Linked DNA regions of Homo sapiens. The protein of the gene in region 1 interacts with the protein of each later gene in a pairwise test. Each region holds a gene or a part of one and is shown in the gene's direction. Other genes may lie near its edges. The genes, in order: SPRY4, RIN3, COQ8A, STIP1, ZDHHC17 and CHAT.

What was found.
Region 2: the proteins of SPRY4 (region 1) and RIN3 interact in a two-hybrid assay, tested with the Homo sapiens proteins (one large-scale study listed by BioGRID and IntAct).
Region 3: the proteins of SPRY4 (region 1) and COQ8A interact in binary tests that used the Homo sapiens proteins (3 or more experiments, as listed by UniProt).
Region 4: the proteins of SPRY4 (region 1) and STIP1 interact in binary tests that used the Homo sapiens proteins (3 or more experiments, as listed by UniProt).
Region 5: the proteins of SPRY4 (region 1) and ZDHHC17 interact in a two-hybrid assay, tested with the Homo sapiens proteins (one large-scale study listed by BioGRID and IntAct).
Region 6: the proteins of SPRY4 (region 1) and CHAT interact in binary tests that used the Homo sapiens proteins (3 or more experiments, as listed by UniProt).

Annotation. Positions count from the first base shown.
Region 1 is NC_000005.10:142,309,930-142,312,475, reverse strand, and holds the end of SPRY4 (protein sprouty homolog 4), read left to right. Parts: 3' UTR 1-2,046; downstream 2,047-2,546. UniProt on the Homo sapiens protein: Suppresses the insulin receptor and EGFR-transduced MAPK signaling pathway, but does not inhibit MAPK activation by a constitutively active mutant Ras. Probably impairs the formation of GTP-Ras.
Region 2 is NC_000014.9:92,512,652-92,516,580, forward strand, and holds the start of RIN3 (ras and Rab interactor 3), read left to right. Parts: upstream 1-1,129; 5' UTR 1,130-1,281; coding exon 1,282-1,325; intron 1,326-1,722; exon of another isoform or gene 1,723-1,945; intron 1,946-2,512; exon of another isoform or gene 2,513-2,860; intron 2,861-3,929. UniProt on the Homo sapiens protein: Ras effector protein that functions as a guanine nucleotide exchange (GEF) for RAB5B and RAB31, by exchanging bound GDP for free GTP. Required for normal RAB31 function.
Region 3 is NC_000001.11:226,967,794-226,971,293, forward strand, and holds part of COQ8A (atypical kinase COQ8A, mitochondrial), read left to right. Parts: intron 1-3,500. UniProt on the Homo sapiens protein: Atypical kinase involved in the biosynthesis of coenzyme Q, also named ubiquinone, an essential lipid-soluble electron transporter for aerobic cellular respiration.
Region 4 is NC_000011.10:64,192,671-64,196,170, forward strand, and holds part of STIP1 (stress-induced-phosphoprotein 1), read left to right. Parts: intron 1-407; coding exon 408-617; intron 618-1,518; coding exon 1,519-1,660; intron 1,661-1,808; coding exon 1,809-1,950; intron 1,951-2,974; coding exon 2,975-3,143; intron 3,144-3,500. UniProt on the Homo sapiens protein: Acts as a co-chaperone for HSP90AA1. Mediates the association of the molecular chaperones HSPA8/HSC70 and HSP90.
Region 5 is NC_000012.12:76,809,115-76,812,614, forward strand, and holds part of ZDHHC17 (palmitoyltransferase ZDHHC17), read left to right. Parts: coding exon 1-6; intron 7-598; coding exon 599-743; intron 744-3,500. UniProt on the Homo sapiens protein: Palmitoyltransferase that catalyzes the addition of palmitate onto various protein substrates and is involved in a variety of cellular processes.
Region 6 is NC_000010.11:49,659,037-49,662,536, forward strand, and holds part of CHAT (choline O-acetyltransferase), read left to right. Parts: intron 1-3,500. UniProt on the Homo sapiens protein: Catalyzes the reversible synthesis of acetylcholine (ACh) from acetyl CoA and choline at cholinergic synapses.

The DNA of each region.
Region 1 (2,546 bases):
TCCTTCTTGAAGACTAGTAGTAACATCTTATGATTTAGAGTAAGTTGATTGTAACCATAGGTATTTATTGATTGGAGGAAGGGAGGGTCATATTATTTTCGGCTTTATTTATGTAACATTTGCTAGCTTGTAAAAGGCGAATGTGAAATATTGCATCTGCATTTTCCAAGGCTGATTCGTGTAGCTACCCTTGCCACAGTTGTGACGGATGTATGGATGTTCTTGAACATTTCAGAAGGAGTGGTAGAAAAAAACACACATTCAGCCAACCACTTATATGAATTGAATGTATCAGAAGTGTACTGAAGGGACTGGAGATGGTTTTCCTCAGATGAGGGGGCCCCAAAATTGATAGTGCACATCTGCACGCTTTCTGCGAGGCCTCAGAACTTCCCAGGGCCCCTCCCTCAAATTGTCTCCATGGGAAACTTGACCCAGTGGCAAGTTGCACTTTGGTGATCTTGGTGGTCTACACACCCGTTCTGTGGAGAGTCGATTTACATAAGCTGTGTATACACACACACACACACACACACACACCCCTACCCCACACTGACTGTCTACCGACAAAGACCCTATTTCCTGGCAAACGGCCTCCTGAACCCTGACTTTTTGTGTACATACTTGTAAACACGGATTTTTCTGGGTTTTGGTTTGCTTTTTCCTTTTTTCCCCCTGCCCCTGTTCTAGCTTGTTCTTCTTGGTTTGCTTTCAACCTGCTTGATGGATGTCTGCAGAGTGCTCTCTAAGAGTCCACCTCAGTGCCTCGTGTGCTCAGTGGTCATGGGAAAGGAGCGAAGGAACCATCCTTGGTTCTCCCAGCTTGGTTGTGTAGCAATCCCTCAGCATTGTTTTTCTCAGCTTCTTGGCAAAAATTAAAACAACAACAACAACAACAACAACAACAACAAACAGAAGGATAAACTGGCTTGCCTGTGGACCCTCCCCGGCTCTGGGGCCAGTCGAGAGCCACTGAGGGACCCAGCACTCAGAGACACAACACACATGTGTAGCTGCTTCTGGCTGAGTGTGTTTCCTGTCACCAATGGCCTGTTTGGCTGGACGATGCCTCGGCTTGACCTTTTTTGAAAAGTGCTGGTTAGTTCCCGCCCCTGGTAAACCTGGGGTAGGTGGGGGTTCTGTCTTAACTCGAGGGGCACCTGGGATCCAGGACGCTTCTAGGGGGCTCTGGCTGCCCGTGTTAATGAAGGACAGCGCTTCCGCGAGCACCCTGGGAACTGGGTCTTGGGTAGCAAAGCCCTCCCAGAGAAAAGATTGGGCACAACTAAGGCTTTCCTGAGCAGGAAGGGGGTGAAGACCAATCCCTTCCTTTGGTCCTTTGGTACGCACCCCCTCAGAGCTGAGATGGAAGACATGGCTAGTTCTTTTCAGCCTTGTGGAGCCTGTCAGTCGCCATCATACCTCGAGTGAGGCCCAGCTAGATAATGACTTGTCCAAGATGGCACACGTGGAAAGTTGATCTGCACCAGAACCCGGATGACTGTCACCTTGAAGCATCCTGTTCTCCTTCTGTGCTGTCCCAGGAAGTGTCTGGCGGGCGTGGGCAGCACAGCTCTACACTGTACGATTCACTAGGGCATCCTGCGAGCCTCACTAGCCTTCTGGTTCATGCCTTTGACAAGCATTTTTGTGCCCCCTCTGCTTACTGTGACAGTCGATGATGAATCTTGCGTTGCCATTTTCTGCTGTGGGTAACTGCGTGCAGTGTCTTGCCTTGCTTTCTCTTCTTACTGTCCCACAGCTTGGTTTCATGTTACAAACAGAAAAGCTCGAGGCTCCCACCCCGCCACATCCCAACTTCATTTCCCCCTCACTGTAGCCCATTTCCACCCCACCACAAAGTTGCCACAGGTTTTCTTTGTATAGAATATTTATTTTGAAGCTCTATTTTAATAGTATTTATTTTAGAAAGTCTACTATTGTAAGAGTTCTTCTGTTTGTGAAGAAAAAAACAAGTTAAAAACTGAATGTACTGATTTAGAAAATATATATAAATATATATTGTTAAATATACACGGGACTGCCGTTTCTGGTGTGTTTGTGTGTTTACTTCCCTGACCTCTTCAGCCAGCAAGGCCTCAAGTTTGAGAATAAGCAGCCACTGAAAGGGGAAGAGAAGATAGGGCTTCCTGGGCTGGGCAATCCCTTCTCCCAGCTCTAGGACGACCGTAGAACCATCGGAGGAAAGCTGCTCTTCATTATGAAGCGGAATACTGCAAGGAGCTGCTAGAGCCTCCTTCCTGGGAAAGCTGTCCCCTAAACTGGAGTGTGCTGCAGATGGACAGCAAAGCTCCAAAACTGGGAAGAGGTAGAGGGGGAAAAGTGTCATCTGACCTGTCCATTCCTCTCCCTTTATGTCCCGATTGCCCCCAAAGCAGGTTTTCACACACATGAACACACAACATACATGCTTCAAGGAACTAAATAGAAAAGCCCTTGGTCATTTCCGTATTTTCACAGGATTGGTGCATATTGCACAAAACTAGTCCTTTTAGCCTCGAAAGCCTTCCATCCATTTCATGACC
Region 2 (3,929 bases), on another chromosome or scaffold:
TGGGCTCAGTCCTGTCTGGTCCTCACTTGCCATATGGCCTTGAGCAAGTCACCTCCACTCTCTAGGCCTCAGTTTCCTTATCTCTAAAATGATGGTATTAGACCTCGACGATTTTGCCCCCGGAGGACACTTGTGATATCTAGAGACATTTCTGGTCGTTACAGAGAGAGGCTGATGCTATGGGTATTTTATGAATCATGGAGAGGCCATGGATACCGTTAAACCTCCTGCAGTTTTGAAGGAGGTTTAATAACAAAGCATTAGCTGGCCCCAATAACAAAGCATTAGCCCCAATAACAAAGCATTAGCCGGCCCCAAATGGCAGTAGCGGCCAGGTAAAGAAATCCTGCATGAGACTGAGGTGACCTAATAGGGTCCAGTCCTGCTCAGTCACTCTGGGAAATGCTCTGGGAAAACACTGGGCTCGGGAGGCATTTTTGAACACCCAGGCACTTAGAAGAGGCCTCACGGTCCCACCTGGGGTTGCTGTGGGTCTTGCATTTGTGTCAGCTGTCTGGCGTTCTCCATCTGCGGTACCCGGCACAGGTGAATTAGATGCCAGGCTTGATGGACGAGCAGTCCGCCTTGTTGAGGAGTGAGCTCCTTGTCACGGGAAGCATCCAAGAGGAGGCGGCGTGCACATCTGTCAGGAATGTGGAGGAGGCGCCCTGGCTCTGGTCTGAGGTTGCCCTTGAACGATTTCGAGGCTCCCTCGGGCAAGGCTGTGGCTCCGAGTGGGACGAACTCCCCGCCAGCTCTGGGCCTCCCCACCTGCCGGCCCGCGGTCGGCGCCGGCACAGGCGGAGGGCGTCTTCCTTCCCCTGCGGCCCCAAGCCAAGTGGAAGACTTTTCTCTAAGTTTCCCTCTCCGAAGCCCCGCGGGCCTCCCGCGCCCCAGCCCCAGCCACAGCCTGTGGAGGCGGCACCCCGAGGTTGGGCGCCCGTGCGGCGCCTTGGCCCCAGCACCCCCCGCCCCGAGGCCCGGCCCCGGGGGCGCGGCCGCCCGGGCCTCCGTGTGCCCCAGGGGGCTCCGGGCCGCGAGCCGCTGCCGAATGGCTTTTGACAAAAAAACCCTTGACCACCAAGGCCAGCCTCTTCCTGAAAGCCCCGCTCGCTCCGATACAGGAAGTAGAAGGGAGCGAGAGCCCCAGAGCGCGGCGGCAGCGGCGGCCTGGCCCTTCCAGAGGGCCAGAGCCAGGGACATGCGGGCGCCCGGGACTCCGCGTTCCGCGCGGCCCGGCGCCTGAGCGCCTCCGTTCCCCGTCCCGGAGCTGCCGGCGGCATGATCCGACACGCCGGGGCGCCCGCGCGCGGGGACCCCACGGGGTAAGTCCGGGCGGCCGCCCCCTCCTCCCTCGCGATCCCCACGGCCCGCGTCCTGGCCGCCCCACTCCACTTCTTGTCCCAGAGAGTCCTTCGGGCGCGTGACCTCGGGGTTGTCGGGCTGATACGGGACCCCCACCGTGGCCGAGGCCAGAACCTGGTTCTGCGGGGCAGGGGGCGGCCCTGGTGACTCCGCTGGACCCGATGTTGGCTAAACTTTCAAGGCCAGGCATTTCACTGGGAACCCAGTGCACACTTTAGGCTGCTGGTGGACGGATTACGAGGGAGTGCGTCGCTACCTGTCAGCGCCGGGGCTGCCCGCGTGGACGCGGCCCCCTCCCTGGCGTCTGCCCCGCCTGAACTTTGCAAACAAAACTCGCGGTCCCAGCCCCGCCAGCCTGCTGCACCCGCTGCTCTGCGAGTCGCAGCGCGCGCCCTCGGGTACTAGAGCCCCGCTGGGCGTGGGGTCGGAGACCCGGACCCCCGCAACTTTGGGTGCCCGCGGCCCAACAGCTGACCGGCCCTCCTGGACCGAGGGTCCACTGGGCCCTTTTCCCGCCGCCCCTCTGCCCTGGCCGTAGACGGTGACCTTCGGACCGGCCCTGGTCGAGCCTAGTGCTTGGGTAGGGTCCAGGGCGCACGGGCTGCGCGCGGGCTGTGGATGCATGACGCCGAATGGTTTGGGAACTGACTTGGAGAGGAGTCCCCGGTGGCTAAGTCCCCGCTCCGCCTCCTTGTCGCCCCCAGCCCCACCTCGCGAGCTCGGGCATTGCTCGGGGCTGGGCTCTGGGAGAAAGTCCTCTCGCCTTGCCCAGCTCAGAGGGCGTCCTGAGAAGCTTCAGGTGTTGTAGAGACGCCCGGTCGGAGGCGGATTCCCGGGGAAAGCCTATTTCTGGGTACCCAGGAGCGCGTCTGGGGAGGCCATTCCCAGCTTTTTGGTTTAAAAGTCCCGGGCCTACTTCTCTGATGGACACCCTGCCGCTCCCTGGCTTGGCAGTGGGACCTCATCTCCCAGGCCCTCAGTTCTCTGCTCTGTGAAACAGGAGAGTTGGGCCCATCTTGTGCAGTCCTGAACTGGGGGACAGCTGGAGGTGACTGGCTCTCACTCAGCTGGGAGGGACTGGGAGGGGGCCTTAAGCTCATCTAGATCTGAACGTCTCCCTTCCCTTCTTCTCCCTCCATCCTGCCAGCCCGGAAATTCTGGATGCTGGTTTCTTTCTCTCGAAAGCGACCTCTGCAAAGACAAATACCATCCGGTGGGAAGAACTGGGAATCCGTTGGGGAAGAGCCCCCCAACCCTCACACCCACTTGCAAGTATCTGCCACACCCAAGATGGCAGGGTGAAGCCGGAGAGGAGTTTCTCAGGGAGGAAGGGGAGGTGAGGGGCCAGGGCGCTGGCCTCACCGGCTTCTCATTTTCCCCAGAGATGACCTAGTGTGATCCACTTCCTCTTGTCTTTTTTTGTTCATTACTGGGTCGGTTATTTAAACTCTCTGTATCTCAGTTCACTTATCAATAAAATGATAAATAATAGTAACTACCCCTTAGAGTTGTTTTGAGGACTAAATACACAGAGTTGAATACATTAGACTATATGGTAAACCCTTAATCATAATTATCACCATTATTATCATTTGTTGGGTATGATCCCTCCATTTGCCAAATGTGTAACCTTAGACAAATGACCCGGCCCCTGCCTCACCTGTAAACTGGGGGTGCTAGCAACACACACCACATAGAATTGTTTCGTGGATTGGCTGAGTTCATAGCTAAGTAGCTGCCCCCAGGCAGCTTAGGGGAAACATCCGTTCAGGCCTGCTTAGAACTGTGCTTGGTACATTCTAGCACTGTATGAATATTGGTTTGTTGCTAAAACATGGCTTTGTTTTGGAGGACCTTTTGGGTTGGAAGGACTTTGAAGGGTAGAGGATTTGCTGATGGATTGGAGGGAGAGAGGAGTGGAGGATGACTCTGGTTGGGCTCTGTCTGCCCAGGGTCCAGTGCATCAGGGACAGATGCCGAACTGTGCGGAGTCTGCTGAGAGTGGGTTCTCAGAGTCCACTCAGGCCAGTAGCTTTCAGGGGGTAGGGAGAGACCTAGCAGGCACCCCCATGCAGCCCCACCATAGCAACTAGACCAGTCACCTTTTCACATTTTTGCTATATTAAAGGTCTGCTTAAGATTTCATTTGGAAAAGGATTCCACTGCTGGAAAAAATGTGGCTGTCATTGACCTAATCAATCCCCTAATTTAACAATGAGGAACCAGAAACCCAGAAAGGGGAAATGGGTTCCCTGGTATTGGGGGAGGTGGTGGTGGAACTCATGTCTCCTGAGCCTTGGCCTGATCTAATACAGGGGTCCTGCTGGAGCCCTGAAGAGGAGCCCCTTAACCACTCCAGGCTGAGACAGGGGGCTCTTCTGGGTGGGGCCCACCTACAGCAGGGCCAGTGATGGATTCAGGGTGTGAGCTCGTAGCTCCAGCTCTGTCCCTTGACCTTGGCTTCCTGGATTCAAGGAGCTAATGTTCCCTGGAGGTCCTGACTGGCACTTAGCTAGGAGACCTAGCCCTTTCCAGATCCTAACAGAGGCTCTGATGCACAGGAG
Region 3 (3,500 bases), on another chromosome or scaffold:
CTGTGGGTGTCTGTGTGCTGGAGGATTGCCCACAGCTATGATTCAGAGATGCTCATGTTGTTGCCCAAGCAATTGACAGATGATGTTTCAGGCTTGGAGATGGCAGGATGGGAGCAAAGAGAAGCCAGGTCAGGAAAGAACGTGCCGTTCTGGCCCTAGTGGGGAATTCTGGGCCTTCTGGCTCACCCAGTTGAACCTTTCAAACTGTAGGTTATGACCCTTTAGTAACTGTGAAATTAATTTAATGCATCAGGATCAGCATATAAAAAACAAGTTAACTGTAATCTCAGCACTTTGGGAGGCCGAGGTGGGAGAATCACCTGAGGTCAGGAGTTTGAGACCAGCCTGGCCAACATGGTGAAACCCCAATTCCTACTAAAAAAATACAAAAATTAGCTAGGTGTGGTGGCATGTGACTGTAATCCCAGCTACTCGGGAGGCTGAGGCACAAGAATTGCTTGAGCCCAGGAGGGAGAGGTTGCAGTGAGCTGAGATTGCGCCACTGCACTCCAGTGGGGGCGACAGAGTGAGACTCTGTCTCAAAAAACAAGTTAAACAGAATGGAATTCAATAGAAAAGATTAGAATTAATATCGTACATCCTTACAATGAACTATACACATGGCAAGATATTTTAGTTTCAGAGACATACATACTATTTAAGTATGTTCTTCACTACAATGTGAAATATATAGCTTACTGGTGGGTCATCATCCAAACAGTTTGTAGTTGCACTGTTGCGCTTTGTTCTCCTAGAAAATACCTCTAGCCTTTCTTCCCTTCATGGAGGAAAGGTGTTTTTCAGGTGCAGACTGACAGACTTTAGGAAGTTTTTACACGGGGTTATGAAGGAAAGGGATTGCTCTAGGTCTCAGGGAGGTAGGGCTGCTGCAGGGACCCAGACGGGTTTTCAGCGAGGTTGGCAGTAGGTATTCAGCTATATAGAAGTGGAAGTCAAGGACTTTCCAATTCCAGGGGCTCATTTTGATGCTGAAATGGGGGCGGGGCATGAGTCCTAAGTCCAATTTGGCTATGGGACATTATGACTGTGATGCTATGGGCAGGATGATCTGTGGATATTAGATTTTCTTAAAGAGTGGTGTGAAAGAAAGGGTCATATATTGGATATGGGGTCAGAACTGAACTTTAGTTCATCATAATAGCTGTCCTTTGATTACAACTGTGCTTCCAGTGTGACCTTGGGCTCTACCGTGGTTTTCTCTTTTGTAAAATAAGGGTCTTGCCGTTGATTCCAAATGGGAATATTTTGGTAAATGTTCCATGTTTACCTGAAAATAATTCATGTTGAGTGCAGTGATCCGTCTATCTAGTCTGGTTTATTATTCATATTGATCAGATTTTTAAGTGATTTTGGTTTGCTTATTCAATAAGCTATCGAGAGAGGCATTAAAAAGTCTGCTATGATTGTGGATTTACCTACTTTTAGTCTATTGACTTGTGCTTTATATGGTTTGAAGCTATGTTATTTGTTGCCTACAGATTCAGAATTCTTTTTTTTTGTTTGAGACAGAGTCTTGCTCTGTCGCCCAGGCTGGAGTGCAGTGGCACAATCTTGGCTCACTGCAACTTCTGCCTCCTGGGTTCAAGTGATTCTCCTGCCTCAGCCTCCCGAGTAGCTGAGACTACACGTGCGTGATAAGTCTCGATCTCCTGACCTCATGATCCGCCCGCCTCGGCCTCCTAAAGTGCTAGGATTACAGGCGTGAGCCACCGCGCCCGGCCAGATTTAGAATTCTTCTTATATCCTCCTAGGGATTGACCCTTCATTCTTATGTTATGCCTCTTTTCATCTCTGTGAAAGTCCTCATTGTCTGATATTACTATAGCTACATTCCAGCTTTGTTTTGGGTAATGTTTGCATGTTACCTTTTTTTTTTCCCCTGTACTTTCAACTTTTAAAATGTCCTTATGTTTAATGCATATCTATGAGCAGCATATATAGTTGGTTTTTTGTGTGTTTTAAGTGTAGACTGATAATCTTACAATGAGAATATTTAGTCCATTTACATTTAAATGCAATTGTGGATGTATTGGAGTTTATATCTACTACCTTAGTTTTTGTTTGTTTACTATTTGACCTGTCTGTTATGTCCCCCTTTTTCTCACCTGTTTTGCCTTCTTTTAAATTAATCAAGGACTTAAAATTATAGTCATGCGTCTCTCTTTTTTTTTGGAGACAGTCTCGCTCGGTCACCCAGGCTGGAGTGCAGCGGCGTGATCTCGGCTCACAGCAACCTCAGGCAATTCCCATGCCTCAGCCACTCGAATAGCTGGAATTACAGGTGTGTGCTGCCATGCCCGGCTAATTTTTGTAGTTTTAGCGGAGACAGGGTTTTGCCATGTTGGCCAGGCTGTTCTTGAACTCCTGGCCTCAAGTGATCCACCTGCCTCAACCTTCCAAAGTGCTGGGATTAAAGGCATGAGCCACCGCACCTGGCCCTCATGTGTGTCTTAACAAGGATTCAGTCCGAGAAATGTGTCGTTAGGCAGTTTCATCATTGTGTGAACATCATAGAGTGTACTTACACAAACCTAGATGGTATAGCCTGCTACATGCCTAGGCTGTATGGCATAGCCTGTTGCTCCTAGGCTACAAACCTTTACAACATGTTACTGTACTGAATACAGTAGATAACTGTAATACAACGGTATTTGTGTACCTAAACATAGAAAAGGTATAGTAAAAATATGATACAATCTATCACTGTCGTATATGCAGTCCGTTGACTGAAATGTTACATGATGCGTGACCGTGCATGTTCTCTCTTTGTTAGCTCTTATGTTTTACATTCCTTTACGGTTCTTTTGGTGATCACTCTTGAGATTACAGCACGCATCTTGACTTATTACAATATAAAAATAAGTGATTATTTTTACTACTTCTCCAATGATGCTAATACCTTAGAACACTTTTTAGATATTAAGATATATTAAACACCACAAGAATTATTTCTTTGTACAGCCCATATGAATTTAGATTTACCCACATATTTGCCCTTTTTTGTGTTTCTTTCTTCCTGCATTTCTATAATTTTATTTGGTATAATTTTCTTTTTCTCTGAGGAACTCTCCTCTCTCTTACAGTGTAGTCTGTTAATCATGAATTCTTTTAGTTTTTATTTATTTTTTATTGATTTATTTTTTGAGATGAAGTTTTGCTCTTGTCACCCAGGCTGGAGTGCAATGGCGTGATCTCGACTCACTGCAACCTCTGCCTCCCGGGTTCAGGTGATTCTCCTGCCTCAGCCTCCTGAGTAGCTGGGATTACAGGTGCATGCCACCACACCCAGCTAATTTTTGTATTTTTAGCAGAGATGGGGTTTTGCCATGTTGGCCAGGCTGATCTCGAACTCCTGACCTCAGGTGATCCACCCACCTCTGCCTCCCAAAGTGCTGGGATTACAGGCATGAGCCACCACACCCGACCTAGTTTTTATTTTTTTGAAAATGTCATTATAGCTGGGCACGGTGGCTCATGCC
Region 4 (3,500 bases), on another chromosome or scaffold:
CCCACCTTCTTCCTGTGAGGGGTGACTAGGGCTGTGCTCTGTTTGTCATTTGGATGCTTTGGAAATCTGTGGCAAATGAATTGACTTTTCCATGGAAGGAGCATGTGGCACATTCTGGAGTGGCTTCGTGAGCTCCATGTGGAGACCGGAAGAGTGGCAGAGCCCTCGTTCGTCACATGGGGGCCAGCGTGGAGTGCAGCCTGGGCTCTTTGCCCCTGCTTATTTTTTCTTTGCTGGCTCCTTAGGGAAGGTGTGAGAAATTAAATAAATGAACCGGTTTTCTCTCTTCTGATCTGTAAAGTCACCTATTTATTTGTTGGTAACTACATGAAAGAATGAGTGTTGTCTTTAAAGCTTGGGATTAAATGGGCACATCATAGAGAAGCTGTGTGTTCCTTTCCCCTCAGGTCAATGAGCTGAAGGAGAAAGGCAACAAGGCCCTGAGCGTGGGTAACATCGATGATGCCTTACAGTGCTACTCCGAAGCTATTAAGCTGGATCCCCACAACCACGTGCTGTACAGCAACCGTTCTGCTGCCTATGCCAAGAAAGGAGACTACCAGAAGGCTTATGAGGATGGCTGCAAGACTGTCGACCTAAAGCCTGACTGGGGCAAGGTCAGCTGTGGGCAGTGGAGGGAGAGAGGCCCTTCAGACCCTTCCAGAAATGCCTTTTGGTGGCCTGAGGTTTACCTGTCCTGATACACTGATAGTTACCTACCCACCTCCCTGTTTGAGTATCCTCCTCAGAAATGGCATTTTTCATCAAATCTAAGGTAGCCATTAGTTGTAATACAGGCTTTATTTTTGGTACTAAGAAGGAAGAGGCCAGGGCTGGGCGCGGTGACGCACGCCTGTGATCCCAACACTTTGGGAGGCTGAGGTGGGCGGATCACTTGAGGTCAGGAGTTCAAGACCAGCCTGGCCAACATGGTGAAACCCTGTCTGTACTAAAAATGCAAAAAAATTTAGCCAGGCATGGTGGCATGTGCTTGTAGTCCCATCTACTCAGGAGACTAAGGCAGGAGGATCACCTGAGCCTGGCAAGCGGAGGTTGCAGTGAGCTGAAATCGTGCCACTGCATCCAGCCCAGGTGACACGGCAAGACCCTGTCTCAAAAAAAAAGGAAGAGGCCCGGTACAGTGGCTCACGCCTATAATCCCAGCACTTTGGGAGGTTGAGGCAGGAGGATTACTGGAGCCCAAAGGTTTGGGACCAGCCTGGGTAACATAAGGAGTCCCTGTCTTTACCAAAAAAATAAGGGAAAAAGTGTTGCCAAAGAAACTGACCACAGTCGATCAGAGGTGAACAAGGCGGGGCGGATGTGCCTCTGCTATTTGGATGGATCCTTACAGTAGCAGCCTTGGCCTCGTAGCCTACTCCTCTCCTTTTTTTCTCTTTGGCCTTCATGTGAATACTCATTTTTCCCCCATAAAAGTAGAATTGTTCTTTTTTGAGTTCGTCTTCTAGATTTACCTCTGGGTGTTCTCTATTTTGTGTCTGTCTTTGGTGGTTTAAGGGCTATTCACGAAAAGCAGCAGCTCTAGAGTTCTTAAACCGCTTTGAAGAAGCCAAGCGAACCTATGAGGAGGGCTTAAAACACGAGGCAAATAACCCTCAACTGAAAGAGGGTTTACAGAATATGGAGGCCAGGTTGGCAGGTAGGTACCACGCACAGTTTTCTTTCTTATTATTAATGTGATTAATTTTGAGTCTTCACCCCTGAGAAATGTCAGTCTGGTAGGGTATGGGACACAGTAATTCTAGTGAACTCATTTCATAGTGATGTGCTTTCCTTTATTTGGACAGAGAGAAAATTCATGAACCCTTTCAACATGCCTAATCTGTATCAGAAGTTGGAGAGTGATCCCAGGACAAGGACACTACTCAGTGATCCTACCTACCGGGAGCTGATAGAGCAGCTACGAAACAAGCCTTCTGACCTGGGCACGTAAGTGGACGCCGCTCACTGAGGTTCTGGAAATCGGGGAATGTTATGCTTTCTTCCTGTAACCTCACAGCAGAGGGTTCCCTGGTCTAAACTGCAGAGTTTTTGCCTTTGCTTATTCTCTGCAGAGCAGTAGGTGGTGGTCGTTTATTTGTAATTATAGAAAGGGTCAGGGGAGCATATTTCACAGTAATCTAGAATGTTCTTTGTCATCTGTATACACCTCTCTCCTGCTCTTCTAGAACTCTGATCTAGCGTCAACCCCATCCTTTCCATCTACTTAGGCCCTACTTTCTCTGTTGGTATATCAGAGTGGAAACAGGGTTGAAGTTCATGTGTAAAGATGTGTCTAAATCTTGTACTGGTATTCATCTCTATCAATCCTCTGGCTCCTGAGATCAGCTACGGAAGTATACCTAAAACAACTCATTCCTCTGTGTATCTGCTAACCTTGAGGAATAAACTTGACCTCTGTGACTTCATTTTATTTTATTTTATTTTATTTTATTTTTTCAAGATGGAGTCTCGCTCTGTCCCCTAGGCTGGAGTGCAGTGGTGTGATCTCAGTTCGCTGCAACTTCCACCTCCTGGGTTCAAGCGATTCTCCTGCCTCAGCCTCCTGAGTAGCTGGGATTACAGGTGTACGCCACCACGCCCAGCTAATTTTTGTATGTTTAGTAGTAGCGGTGGGTTTCACCATGTTGGCTAGGCTGGTCTCAAACTCCTGACCTCAAGTGGTCTGCCCGCCTCGGCCTCCCAAAGTGCTGGGATTACAGGTGTGAGCCACCGTGCTCCGCTATCTGTGACTTCATTTTATTTGTTTTTGTTGACTCTATTTTAGATAGTGTTTTGACGGTTTGAGTATTTCTCAATTGTAACTCATGAGTGGTGCAAAATCTAGCCATCTTTTGATGGGTGAGGAGCTTCTAAACACAAGAATCTGACTTTAGTAGTAAGTGGGAGTTAAAAGACTAATTGTGGGGAGGAGTAATTACAATTTTTCTTTATTTTTTTAAATCAATACTAGGAAACTACAAGATCCCCGGATCATGACCACTCTCAGCGTCCTCCTTGGGGTCGATCTGGGCAGTATGGATGAGGAGGAAGAGATTGCAACACCTCCACCACCACCCCCTCCCAAAAAGGAGACCAAGCCAGAGCCAATGGAAGAAGATCTTCCAGAGAATAAGAAGCAGGTCTTGTTTTTTTCTCTCCTCACTGTCACCTATCTATAAACAACTAGAAATCTTTATGTTGAATGGGGACATCTGTTGACCTTGATTGACCATGATTATTATGGTTTTTTTAGAGACGGAGTCTTGCTGTGTTTCCCAGGTTGGTCTTGAACTTCTGGCCTCAAGCGATGCTCCTGCTTCAGCTAGGATTACAGTCACGAGCCACTGTGCCCACCTAAAACTATTTTGAGTGCTTTAGTATGCGCTAAGCTTATGGCTATTATTCATTAGAATGGCCAGCATGTTAAAAAATCAGCTTCAGGCCAGGCACGGTGGCTCATGCCTATAATCCCAGCACTTTTGGAGGCCAAGGTGGGC
Region 5 (3,500 bases), on another chromosome or scaffold:
CACAAGGTTTAAATTTGCTTCTGGATTTTTTTCCTTTGGTTCCTTTATTAGTATATAAATAAACAACTTTAAAAAAATGATATACTAAAATGAATAGGAGAGCTTATTATGCCGTTAGTTAATATCATAAATATGCTGATGTTTTATTGTGAAATATTACCTGTAAAGAAGCAAAAGTTTATTGTCCAAAGTTTCCCTGGCCATGCTGATATTAATTCAGTTAGTTATAAGATTGGATTAAACTTTGGATTTCTAAACGTAATATTTTTGCAGCCTGTATATATTTACAATGAAAGAATTAGCTCATTTCTTGGGATGATTGAGATAATATTAGAATGGACATAATAGAATATAGTAATTATTTACTATATATTTAAATAAGTTATGAGTACTTCCATACATTTTCAGACTGTTAATCTAGTTAAGACTTCTAAGAACCATAAAATCCTAAATGTATTTTGACATGTATCTATTTTAAAATAACTTTTCAAAATACATACGTAATCTTCCCACCATACCTTACTTGAAAAAGCTCTTCCCAGAGGATCCTGTTTGAAATAACTTTATATATCTAAGTGTTTATTCTTTTATGTTTTAGACAAGGCCATCTATCCATGGTTGTGCAACTAATGAAATATGGTGCAGATCCTTCATTAATTGATGGAGAAGGATGTAGCTGTATTCATCTGGCTGCTCAGTTCGGACATACCTCAATTGTTGCTTATCTCATAGCAAAAGGACAGGTAAAAAAAATCTCAGTGGTATGGATTTTAATCAGATGTTCTTCATAGTTTAAATGCCTAATATTATTGGTGTTGTAACAAGCCGTTGATATTTAAATAGCACTTTCTGATGGGTGAAGAACATAAATATAGTGAGTTTGATATGGAGATATTTAATGTACCTAACATAAAAGCCAGCATGAAAATCATGAACCAGATAATGATGAAGTTGGGTTTTTTATTTCTAAGAGTAATGGAGATAAAGCTCAGAAATTAAGAGAGAAAATATAAGTATCTATTTTTTCTTTATGTATTTTGAATATATCATCTGAATTCATCCAAACTTTTTTGAACTTATTTATTGGTTATTTTATATATTAAATATCTCTTGAGAGGGATACATTTTTTAAGATCAGTTTCTGCTGTATAAGATAATGCTGCTTCTTACTTGTCAGAAAAACATCATATTTTAAGTGGTTGTTCCTGATTTTTCTTGAGTGTGCAGTGACCATAATCACATTAAATATTACCAGTTTATATAATCATGTTTTTGTAATAAACGTATTTTGTTAAAAGTAATGTCACCCAGTTTTTCTTTAGTGTGTTTTTTCTGGTTATATTTGAACATTAATTTTATAAGTAAGGATCTCATCACAAGAATAACTTTAAGATATATGTATTTAATTTGTTGCTATCAACATGTATTTATTGTTAATTTAAAATTCTATGCGGATTTAGAATTTGAATACTATTTCTTTTAATGAAGGTTTTACAGTATTTGTTGTTGGCAGTCTCAAGCAGTGGCAGTTGTGTTGTGCATTATAGTTTAGGAAAAGAGGCATAGACTGATAAAGTTAATTGCTGGAAGGGGAGGGGGGGTTATTGTCTGTTACTGTGTTAAAAAACTACTGCCAAAATCTAATGGCTTAAGAACAATACCAACCAATTAATACGTCTCACAATTTTGTGGGCTTGGCTGGATGGTTTTTCTCCTTGGCTGGTGGCTGCAGTTGTCTGGCGGCTTGACTGAGCTGGAAGATTGGCTCACATATCTTGTGACTTGATAGGAATGGCTACAAACTGCTTAACTGGGAGGCTGGGGCAGCGAGGCCTCTTTCTTTCTCTATGTAGTGTCAGAACTTCTACTTTTCAATACCAGTCCATGTGGTCTTTCCAGCAGGAGAACTAGACTTCTTACATATTGGCTTAGAGCTCCCAAAAGAACAAAAGTAGAAGCTGTTTTGCATTTTTAAGTCTTAGGTCTTGAACTGACACAGCAACGTTTTTTCTCCATTCTATCAGTTAAAGTGAGTTAACAAGGGCCATAACCACCCGGAGGGAAGGGACCACACAAGGGTGTGAATACCAAGAGGCCAGGTTTATGGGGGGTCATCTGGAGAGCAACTGCTATAGGAGATTATTCTTGTTATTCTGCAGTTTTTTTCTAGAACAAACGTTGAAGCAGTAAATGGTGCTATAGCACATCACAAGGTCTTTAGTGGCCTTCCATATTGCAGAATAAATCTACAATACACATTCACTTTTTTACTTTCAGTTTTTAACTGGGAAAGAAAGGTGGTGTACATTTTTGAGTCTTCATGGTCTTTTTTTTAACTTATTGATTTTGGAGTTTGGATTATTTCATTAATCTTTTTAACCTCTGGTATAGTATATAGGCTATAAAATTCTCAAAGGGCAGGATTTCTACCTGTCAGTGCTTTTGGTACAAAAAGGGCATGATGATGATAATGATGATGATAAATGTCTGAGAAATAGTTTTTTTTTTCCATGAGTAAATTTTTTTTCTGCACACAAAGATAATAAATGTTTATTATGAAATATTCAGGCATAATAGAATATGACTTAGAAAATGAAATCTCACCTCTCCCCTTGGCCATCTGCTGACTGAGGTTACTTCCTTTAATAATGTAGTATGTATTTTAAGAGATTTTATTCCATGTACAGATTAAGCATCTGTAATCTGAAAATCCGGAATGCTGCGAAATCCAAAACGTTTTGAGTGTCAACATGATGCCACAAGTGGAAAATTTTACCCCTGACACCTTTGCTTTCCAATATAGTTCGTTGTACACACACTTTGTTTCATGTACAAAATTATTTAAAATATTGAATAAAATTGCCTTCAGGCTGTATGTATAAGGTGTATATGAAAGATGAATGAATTCCACATTTAGATTTTGGTCCCATTCTCAAGATTTTATTACATATATGCAAATATTTCAACATAGGAAAAACATACACATATTCAAACACTTCTGGTCCCAAGCATTTTACATAAAGGATACTCAACATGTATACACTAATATATTGTAAAAGACACTCTTCCAATGTGCATTGCATCATACTGTGAGGGCCCAGAGTTTTTCTCTGTGCTAGAGCACTGTGCCGTTTAACCCCTGGATACCTTTGAGCTCCACTTCTGCCATCTCCCCATCATCACTCTGCTTTAACTGCACTAGTTTTTTTTTGCTACTTTTTCAGCAACTCTGACATGCTGTTGTCTAAGGGCCTTTTGGTTGCTGTTTCTTCTGCTGGTATATTCTTTCCTCAGATAGTCACACAGTTTCTCTCTCTCTCTTCAGTCAGATGGTTGCTCAAATTTTATTAGTTCTGATTACATAGTTCCTAATTATAAGCAGTAATAAAATTAGCATATTTTTATTTCTTCTTCCCTTTCTCTTTTATCGACTGTAGTCAATAATATTGTTTTTCTTAATGTTAACTATGTTCTGATAAATTTTTACTACATTTTTATTA
Region 6 (3,500 bases), on another chromosome or scaffold:
TAGCAAAGGAAATTTCACAACACTAAACATGAAGAGAAGATTCTAAAATCTATCAGAGGATAAAAAAATCAAATACAAAGATCCATAAAAAAGATGTAATTAATTTCTGAACAGCATCATTGGAAGGTGGAAGATAAAAAGAGTAGTGTCTTCAAATTCTGAGAGAAAGTGACCTTCAACACACATTTCATACCCAGCTAAACTGTCATCAAGTTTGAAGATGCATCAAAGATATTTTTAGACAGAGAAAGTCTCAAACATTTTACTTATTAAGCACCATTTCTCATAAAGCTACTGGAGAATGTAGACTTCTAAAGTGAGAAAATAAAACATAAAAGAGGAAATCATAGGCTGAAAAAAAACAGAAGATTTAACACAAGAAAAAGATAGAGGGGTGCCCGCAGGATGACAGTAAAAGGAGATCACAAATCAACAGTTGTTGAGTACACCTAGAGAGCAATCAGTCCATAAAGAAGCAAGAAGTGAGAGGACAAATGAAATTCTTGCTGCATGTTTAGGAATCAGTTAGAAACAGATACATGGGGCCTGGCACAGTGGCTCATGCCTGTAATCCTAGCACCTTGGGAGGCCGAGGTGGGTGGATCACCTGAGGTCAGGAATTCAAGACCAGCCTGGCCAACATGGCAAAACCCCATCTCTACTAAAAATACAAAAAATAGCCAGGTGTGGTGGCACATACCTGTAATCCCAGCTACTAAGGAGGCTGAGGCAGGAGAATCACATGAACCCAGGGGGTGGAAGTTGCAGTCAGCCGAGATCACGCCACTTCACTCCAGCCTGGGTGAAAGAGCAAAACTCCATCTCAAAAGTAAATAAATAAATAAATAAAATAGATACATGGAAAGCTAAGGAAGTAAAAAAGTAATTTATACATTGTCAATTCTAGGGAAAACAAAAAATTCAATAAGAAAGGAAATCTAATCATAGTACACTACATGACCCAGCTGTGAATACTTGCTTAATTATACTTATGTATATCGTTCTGTATACATGATTATGCTGTATCTTGATCAAACTACAAAGAGTTAAAACATAATCTTATTGGGAAGATGGGAGAGTAGAAGTGTGCTGGGGGAGCAGGGTCATAAAAGAGCTGAAATTGGCCGGGTGCAGTGGCTCACGCCTGTAATCCCAGCACTTTGGGAGGCTGAGGCAGGTGGATCACAAGGTCAGGAGATCGAGACCATCCTGGCTGACACGGTGAAACCCCATCTCTATTAAAAATACAAAACAATTAGCCAGGTGTGGTGGCGGGGTGCCCGTAGTCCCAGCTACTCAGAAAGCTGAGGCAGGAGAATGGCATGAACCCAGGAGGCAGAGGTTGCAGTGAGCTGAGATCGCGCCACTGCACTCCAGCCTAGACGACAGAGTGAGACTCCATCTCAGAAAAAAAAAAAAAGAGCTGAAATTTCACTGTCTATAACAAGAAGATTATAGGTAAAACTGAGAAATTCAGTAGTGGTAACCTAAGCATATGTTTGGAGGAAAGAAAGTATATACCCAAAAGAAATAGCTAAAAGACTGTAAGGAATTACCTTTGTGGGGTAGGAATCCGTGCTGGCAAAATGACCTAGGCTTTTGGTTTATTTGGATTTCTAAACGATATAAATATATGACAATAACAACTTTAAATTTATTAAAATGTCTAGGAAAACACCCTCCAAAGCATTGCCATAGGGTTGTGTTAATAATTTTAAGTTGATGAGAACAACCAAATCAAAGAGATGGGTTTGGGGAAAGGAGAGATACAAAGATGCTTAGGATGTGAATCTGGTGTGTGGTTGGACATGGAGGGTAAGGAAAGGGGGAAAGAAGCAAGGAAACCTAATAACTGGTAAGCATATTTGCCAGTGGTCGTGGAGAAATAAAGTTCCAATGGCAAGGTGGTCCAGAGCCCCCATCACTTACTCTCCCACTTCTATGTTTTCCCTTCCTCACACTTGAGTTTATGATCATGTTTTTTTGCATGGTTGATGAAATCTGTCCCCCACTACACCATAAGCTCCACAAGGACTGAGTCTACAACTGTCTTGTTCTCTGTTGTGGCTACAGGACCCGCGGCACCAGGCATATAGTAGGCACTCAATTAAGATTCCCTAAATGAATGAATGAAAGACTGAATTATAAGTCATTTTACTCGTTATTACTCATGGCTCTGAGCCAAACAACCTGTGAACTCAGTCTCTCTTGCTACAGTTATTCCAAGGTGGTGAAAAGAGGGGTGAGTTGACTGTTCACAGGGAAGCTGCTTCTATGGACCAACACAAATCAGGAATTAAATAGAGGAAACCAGAGAAATTAAAAGAGTAGTCTCCTTCATAGATGGGCTCACCGTTCTTTCCTTCGGTCCTAACAGGTAGGGCACGTCTAAAGTGAGCTGTGGTTGTGTAATGTTTGTCTTTTCAGCCTCTAATTAGGTGCGTTCAGAGAGACCAGAGCCTGAGTCATCTTTATGCATTCATTCGCAACTGAAAGAGAACAGCTGTCAAATCCCTAAACGTGCCTTGTAAACCTATACCAAGTTCATTGTGAATGGGAAGTTTCCTCCTGTGCAGGGCTTTGACAGCTAACTGGCCATCCTACAGAACTGTGAAACCCCAAGAGTTACTCACAGTTACCCTGATGTTGACCCAAAAGTGATTACTATGGGTCAGGGTGGCCCCCTGAGTCTCCATCAGCCCCTAGAATTGCTCCAAATAAACATGCAGTCCAAAAAACCAGTGTGCATACTACATACCCAGCCTCAAGTGGGGGAGCTGTAGAATGAGTACCCGGCCCCACTTCCAGACACCTCACCCTCCGTGAACCCCTCCTACATTGACATCCTGGAGCTTTCTCTATATTTCTATCCTTTGATAAAAGTTTAAATATCTTGTGATAAAAAGAAAAAGAACTTTTATTATTCAACAGGCTCTTTCCCCTTGAAAATGTCAGTTGAGCCTGCTAAGGGGTCTAGTTCCTGTCTCAAAACGATTTCTTAGATTATGGATCCAGTTTAAATGAATTGATCCTGAGCCATGAAATAGCAGCCAAGATTCAGTAACAGATCTCACACCCTCTATCCTCTATCTCTTGTTCCCTGGGCTCCTACTGGAGGAGACAGCGCTGGTTGTGGTGGGAGTCTGTTCAGGACAGCCTGGGACGCCCTTCACAATGCTTGCACAGGATCCGGTAGTCTCCAAGCTCTGCACACAGCCTTCTTCCCAAACTCTCTCCCTGCCCAAGCAGTTGGTAGTTGAGAAGACCAGGCCAGCCCCATTCTTTCCACTTAGAGAACCAGGCGGATATAGTTGTGTAGGGGATGCTCAGACTCACTAACCTTTAGCTCAGATGTCTCAAGCTAGAACCCAACCTGCTCTGGACTCATTCAGTGCATGTGGAAATGCGCAAGGGCCCGGGAGCAGAGGCCGCATGGTAGAGCGGTCAGTCCTGAGCAGCCACTCATACACATTGTTGGCAGCAGGCACTGGGTAAGCATG